Homo sapiens: one gene and its partner. The protein of the gene in region 2 purifies or fractionates together with the protein of the main gene of each other region. This does not show direct contact. Each region holds a gene or a part of one and is shown on either strand. Other genes may lie near its edges.

The links. The genes of interacting proteins can lie anywhere in the genome.
Region 1: the proteins of KLC1 (region 2) and GEMIN5 fractionate together in Homo sapiens (co-fractionation; one large-scale study listed by BioGRID). This does not show direct contact.

The regions. Positions count from the first base shown.
Region 1 is NC_000005.10:154,893,035-154,896,785, forward strand, and holds part of GEMIN5 (gem-associated protein 5), read right to left. Parts: intron 3,310-3,751; coding exon 3,058-3,309; intron 1-3,057. UniProt on the Homo sapiens protein: The SMN complex catalyzes the assembly of small nuclear ribonucleoproteins (snRNPs), the building blocks of the spliceosome, and thereby plays an important role in the splicing of cellular pre-mRNAs.
Region 2 is NC_000014.9:103,635,633-103,639,383, reverse strand, and holds part of KLC1 (kinesin light chain 1), read right to left. Parts: intron 1-3,751. UniProt on the Homo sapiens protein: Kinesin is a microtubule-associated force-producing protein that may play a role in organelle transport. The light chain may function in coupling of cargo to the heavy chain or in the modulation of its ATPase activity.

The sequences.
Region 1 (3,751 bases), on a different chromosome or scaffold from region 2:
TGTGGTGAGCTGAGATTGCGCCACTGCACTCCAGTCTGAGCATGAGAGTGAGACTCCCTCTCAAAACAAACAAACAAACAACAAAAACAAAAAGTGAGTTTCTGGAACTAAAAGCTGTAATTAAAAACAAAATAAAGGCTGGGTGCAGTTGCTCACACCTATAACCCCATCACTTTGGGAGGCTGAGGCGGGCGGATCACCCGAGGTGAAAGCCCGTCTCTAAAAAAAAAAAAAAAAAAAAAAAAATTAGCCGGGCTTGGTGGTGCACGCCTGTAATCCCAGCTACTTGGGAGGCTGAGGCGGAAGAATTGCTTGAACCCGAGAGGCGGAGGTTGCAGTAAGCCACTACACCCGAGCCTGGGTGACAGAGTGAGACGCTGTCTCAAAAAAAAAAAATCAAAACCCACCAAAAACAAAACAAAACAAAGCTTGGAGTACAACTAAGAAAAATGTGCTCAATTTTAAGTATGTAGTTTGAGAAACATATATAGTTACAACACTACCAGCAAAATCAAGACAGAACATTTTCATCAACTGAAGATATGCCCTCCGGCTCCTCTGCAGGCGATCTCCTGGCCCCACCCCACTGGCAACCACTGAACTGGTTGTCACTTTAATTTTTTCTTTTCTAGAATTCATATAAATGGAACCACAGAGTATATAGTCTTTTGTGTCTTTAAAGCTTTTGAGATTCACCGATATTCTTCTTCTTCTTCTTTGTTTTTTTGAGATGGAGTCTTGCTCTGTCGCCCAGGCTGGAGTGCAGTGGCACGATCTCGGCTCACTGTAAGCTTGGCCTCCTGGGTTCACACCATTCTCTTGCCTCAGCCTCCAGAGTGGCTGGGACTACAGGAGCCCGCCACCACGCGCGGCTAACACCGATATTATTTGTGTGGCAGTAATTTGTTCCTTTTTACTTTCTTTTTTTGAGACAGGGTCTCATTCTCTTACCCAGGCTGTAGTGCAGTGGTTCCATCTTGGCTCACTGCAGCCTCCGTCTCCCAGATTTGAATGATTCTCCTGCCTTAGCCACCCTAGTACCTGGGATTACAGGCTTGTGCTACCACACCCGGCTAATTTTTGTATTTTTACTAGAGACAGGTTTTTGCCATGTTGCCCAGGCTGGTCTCAAACTCCTGAGCTCAAGCGATCCACCCGCGTTGGCCTCCCAAAGTGCTGGGATTACAGGTGTGAGCCACCAAGACTGGCCCTTTTTATTGTTAAACAGTATAGTATTTCACTGCATAGACACAACACAGTTTGCATATCCATTCATCAGTTGATGGACATTTGGGTTGTTTCTAGTTTTTGGCTACTGTGCACTAAGCTGCTGTAAACATTTGTGTACAAGTCTTTGTGTGGCCATCTGATTTCATTGTTTTAGTGGAATATCTAGGTAGCAGAACTGCTGAGACATGGGGCATGTGCATGTTTAACTTTATAAGAAACTGCCTGGCCAGGCGTGATGGCTCACACTTGTAATCACAGCACTTTGGGAGGCCGAGGCAGGTGGATCACATGAGGTCAGAAGTTCAAGACCAGCCTGGCCAACATGGTGAAACCCTGTCTCTACTAAAAATCTGAAAAATAGGCTGGCTGCAGTGGCTCATGCCTATAATCCCAGCACTTTGGGAGGCCGAAGTGGGCAAATCACGAGGTCAGGAGTTCGAGACCAGCCTGGCCAACATGGTGAAACCCCTGTCTCTACTAAAAATACAAAAAATTAGCCGGGCATGGTGGCAGGTGCCTGTAATCCCAGCTACCCGGGAGGCTGAGGCAAGAGAATTGCTTGAACCTGGGAGGCGGAGATTGCAGTGAGCCAAGATCATGCCACTGTACTCCAGCCCGGGTGACAGAGTGAGACTCCATCTAAAAAAAAAAAAAAAGTAAAAATATTAGCTGGGCGTGGTGGCACATGCCTGTAATCCCAGCTACTTGGAAGGCTGAGGCAGGAGAATTGCTTGAACCTGGGAGGCGGAGGTTGCAGTGAGCAGATATCATGCCACTGTACTCCAGCCTGAGCAACAAGAGTGAAATTCCGCCTCAAAAAGAAAGAAAAGAAAAGGAAAAAAGAAAAGAAAAAAAGAAACTGTCCAATTGTTTTTCAAAGTATATACCATTTGAGAAGCCTTGTTCCTCATAAATATCATAATGTTCCCTCATTTTGAAATGAGGGAAAGAACTACGCCAGGCACAGTGGCTCATGCCTGTAATCCCAGTACTTTGGGAGGCTGAGGCGGGAGGATCACTTGAGGAATTCGAGACCAGCCTGGGTAACAGTGAGACCCAGTCTCCAGAAAGGAAAAAAAAAAAAAAAAAGAAGTAGGTATATTCACAAGGCAGACATAGCAGTTAAAATAAATCAACTGATCTCTTTTTATCAACATGGATAGATTTTACAAACAATGGCCTCTGAAATAAGCAAACAGCAAAACAATACATGTGGCACTGACACAGGAGGTGCCTGTGGCGAGCTAGGGAAGGAGTGAAGGGCTGAGGAAAGGAACAAGAAGGACTTCAACTTTGCCCTACTGTTTTTATTTTATAAAGTCCTCAAATCAAAATACAAAATGAAACCAGAAAACCCTACAAAGTAAAAATGACAAAATGTGAACATCTGTTAATTCTGGTTGATGGGTTATTACATTATTCTGCTTTTCTATATTTTCTAGACTTTTTATTTTACTTTTTTAGAAAAGGAAATAGTGGCTGGGCGTGGTGGCGCACGCCTGTAATCACAGCTCTTAGGAGTCTGAGGCGGGAGAATCACTTGAATCTGGGAGGTGGCGGCTGCAGTGAGCCAAGATCATGCCACTGCACTCCAGCTTCAAACAACTAAAAAAAACAAAACAAAAAAGGGAATACTGATCTAATACTAACTTTAAAGTTAAAGGGCTTTGATTAGTCTAAAGGGATCTTTCCAGGTGGCGTGGCCATGCCTTAGCCTTTTCTGAAACACAGTCCAGTATTCTGCTTGTTTCCCCGTTACAATAGACATGGATTAAGGAAGTCTTACCACTGAGTGATTAATGTCAAATGCTGGTACAGATGGCTTACCTGTTTGGCAGGTGTGTTATTTGTAGCAGATGGGTACTTGATGTTCTGCAGCTTCTGAAAGGCTTCCTGATACTGCTCAGGGGTGTCAAGGCTGAAGATGCTCTTCCACACTGCAGTCACCCTCTCCACGAAAGGCCCTTCGGTGCCCGTGTTCCAAGTGTGGTAAGAGGAGGAGCTTTTGCCCTCTGAAAGCTGCTTTTCCTCCAGATGCCTGGACAGTAGCTCCAGAAGGCAAAACACCAATCTCTGACCCTGGAACACGACAACAAGGAAGAGGAACTGTTATACAGGGAAAGCACTGGATGATCTCGAGAGCTCTCCCGTGTCCTTCAAAGTATTTCCCTTTGTATCTGCAGCAACCAAAGCACATTAGTGAGCTACCTGCCCCATATGAGTCATGCATGAAAAGAGACAAAAGGGGCGATCTGACAGACACTTCCCAGGTCCCTTTTGGGGGAAATCTATCCTTAGAGCTCAAGAAACCATTTTTATAACACAGAATCCCAACTGTAGCACTACCCACAATGATTTAAGCCACACACAGACCAGCCACTTAAGCCTTGTAGCCTAGTTTGAGGAAAAGAAGGGCTGGGCTCATCAGGTTCTTTCTCCCTGACCAAACTTTGGACTCAGGAATAAAAGCATAATGGGCCAAAGGTGCTGGAATAGACAAGCTTTGCAGATCCAAGAGCTG
Region 2 (3,751 bases):
TGAGGCAGGCGGATCACTTGAGGTCAGGAGTTCAAGACCAGCCTGGCCAACATGGTGAAACCCCATCTCTACTAAAAATATAAAAATTAGCTAGGCGTGGTGGCACATGCCTGTAGTTCCAGCTACTTGGGAGGCTGAGGCTGCAATGAGCCAAGATCATGCCACTGTACTCCAGCCTGGACAACAGAGCAAGACTCCATCTCAAAAAAAAGGAAAGAAGAATTCGCATCTGTCCAATATGTTAGTTTTGGGAGCATTTTCAAATGTGTAATATTTTATCGAAATAACAACAAAAAAAGTCTGCAGGTAGTTTGATGACCTATCATTATAATTCCCATTTACAGCTGAGGAAACTGGGATACATGAAGTGATTTAAGCTTATTCTACCAACAAGAAGAACACAATCCAAGGTCTCTTTGCCCCAAGTGTCCCTCTGCTTCAGGAACCCTACCACTCTGCATGCACGCACACACACACACACACCCTTGTGCTCACACACATACACCCTATGTTCATACATATGCACCACTGTGCTCACACACACCCCTATGTTCATACATACACACACCACTGTGCTCACGCACACACACCCCCACTGTGTTCATACATACACACCACTATGTTCACACACACCCACACACCCCACTGTGTTCATACATATACACCCAGACTCCAGCCTGGGTGACAGAGCGAGACTCTGACTCAAAAAAAAAAAAAAAAAAAAAAATTAATGAAATGAAAGCAAAGGCCAGAGAAGCAAAGGGCATCATCTTTGGTCACTTTACCTCCCCTGGTTTTATCATGTGAAATTCAGCCAGGTGGGGAAAGCTTACAGTGATGAAGAAAGTTAAGAAAAAAAAAAAACACCAAGCACTAAAAAGGGAAAAGGAATGTGTGGAATTAGATAGATGGTAGTTGCACAAAACAGAGAATACATTAAAAATCACTGCACTGCACGCTTTAAAATGGGGCATTTGATGTGATGTGACTTACATTTCAATTTTCTAAAAGAGAAAAAGAATGTGGTAGAAAAAGCAATAGGTCTGGGTGCACAGAATGAAGGACAGCCAAGAAAGAAATGTCAATTACTCTCAGTTCTCAAGTGTTAAATAAAGTTCCTATGAATACAGACGAGGGTAGCACATTAAGGAAAAATGGGATGGAGGGAAGAAAACAGAGGTTTTTTCCTTGCAAAGGTTTATAAGGGATGTTTTACCGAGAGATGGGCAACAGGAAACCCTGGCAGTGCTGGCCAGATCAGCAGGGTCAGGTCCCATCCCCATATACAGGCGCAGAAGCCCCAAACAATACCAGCAAAGAGGGTCCTGAGGTGAAGGGACCAGCCTACAGGAACAGTCCACGTCATATTCAGGGAAATAAATAGTATCTTGGTGGCCCAGCATAGTGGCTTACGTCTGTAATCCCAGCACTTTGGGAGGCCAAGGAGAGCAGATCATTTGAGCCCAGAAGTTAAAGACTAGCCAGGGCAATGCCATGAAACCCTGTCTCTACAAAAAACAAGCCGGTCATGGTGGTGCGCACATGTAGTCCCAGCTACTTCAGGGGCTGAGGTGGGACGATCACTTGAACACGAGGCTGCACTGAGCCACGACTGTGACACTGCACTCCAACCTAGGCAACAGAGCAAGATCCTGTCTCAAAAATTAAATAAATACATAAATATTTTTTTAAAAAGAAAACATTAACAACCAGACAAAACAAATGCATCTATTTGGCCTTTGGGTGACTTATTTATAGATATGCTTTCAGAATTAAGGAAAGCGGATGTTGCTTAGGCAACAACAAAAAATAAAAGATAAAAATAAACCCTGCGAAAATTTCTTTTTTTTTTTTGAAACAGAGTCTCACTCTGTTGCCCAGGCTGGAATGCAGTGTCGCAATCTCGACTCACTGCAACCTCTGCCTCCCGGGATCAAGCGATTCTTCTGCCTCAGCCTCCCAAGTAGCTGGGACTACAGGTGCACACCACCACGCCTGGCGAATTTTTGTAATTTTAGTAGAGACGGGGTTTCACCATACTGGCCAGGGTAGTCTCAAACTCCTGACTTCATGATCCACCCGCCTCGGCCTCCGAAAGTGCTGGGATTATAGGTGTGAGCCACCGCGCCCAGCCGAAAATTTCTTTAATAAAACTTGCCAGAGCATGGTTAAGAAAAATTAAAAGTATTGATTTATTAAAAGGCACTACCAAAAAATAAAGTTAAGCCATAGATTAGGAAAAAATATTTGCGACACATATATATCTGGCAAACGGCTTGTATAAAAAATACGTCAGCCTGGGCAATAGAGCAAGAGCAAGACTCCATCTGAAAAAAAAAAAACATGTAAGGAACTGCTGGGCGTGGTGGCTCACGCCTGTTAATACCAGCACTTTGGGAGGCCAAGACGGGCGGATCACGAGGTCAGGAGATCGAGACCATCCTGGCTAACATGGTGAAACCCATATCTAATAAAAATACAACAAAAAAAAAAATTAGCTGGGCGTGGTGGCAGGCGCCTGTAGTCCCAGCTACTCCAGAGGCTGAGGCAGGGGAATGGCGTGAACCCGGGAGGCAGAGCTTGCAGTGAGCCGAGATCGCGCCACTGCACTCAAGCCTGGGCAACAGAGGAGACTCCATCTCAAAAATAAATAAATAAATAAATATGTAAGGAACTTAAAAATACAAACAATCCAATTTTTTAAATGGGCAAAAGTCTTGAACAGACACTTTACAAATCCAGGCATACAAAGACCGACAAGCATGTAAGCGCTCACCATTATGAGTCATCAGTGAAATGCACATTAAAACTAACAAGATGCCACTATACCCCGCTAGAATGGCTCAGATGAAAAAGACAGGCAAGGCCAGGCACGGTGGCTCACGCCTGTAATCCCAACACTTTGGGAGGCCGATGGGGGGTGATCACCTGAGGTCAGGAGTTCAAGACCAGCCTGACCAACATGGAGAAACCCATCTCTACTAAAAATACAAAATTAGCCCGGCATGGTGGCCCATGACTGTAATCCCAGATACTCAGGAAATTAAAGCAGGAGAATTGTTTGAACTCGGGAGGCAGAGGTTGCAGTGAGCTGAGATCGTGCCACTGCACTCCAGCCTGGGCAACAAGAGTGAAACTCCATCTCAAAAAAAATAAAAAATAAAGTATTGAAAGTAGTCAAAATCATAGAAACAAAGTAGAAAAGATGGTTACCGGGGGAGGGCGAGGGAGGAGGAGATATCAGTATTTGGGGGCTACAGTCTCAGCGCTGCCAGATGAAAGAGTTCCAGAAATGTGGAACAACGATGTGCATATCCTTAACACTACTGAATTGTGAACTTTTAAATGGTTAAAATGGTACATCTTTGAAAAAAATTGAAGTGGCGCGAGGTTTCCCCAAGAAAAAGTAATGATAGGATTAAACAGCATTATCATGATTCACTTGAAGCTGCAGCTTTAAGTACTGCAAGGTGATTCAAAGCTTATACCGCGAAGCAAAAAAACTGAGTTAGAATCTTGACTTCACAGCTGTGTAACTTTGGTTTCTGAAACTTCCCCTCTCTCACCCTCAAATTCCTCAACAGTAGAATCTCAGTAACAGTACCTATTTTACTTTTTTTTTTTCTTTTTGAGATGGGAGTCTCACTCTGTCGCCCAGGCTGGAGTGCCGTGGCTCGATCTGGCTCACTGCAACCTCCGCCTCCCGGGTTCAAGTGATTCTCCTACCTCAGCTTCCCAAATACCCGGGACT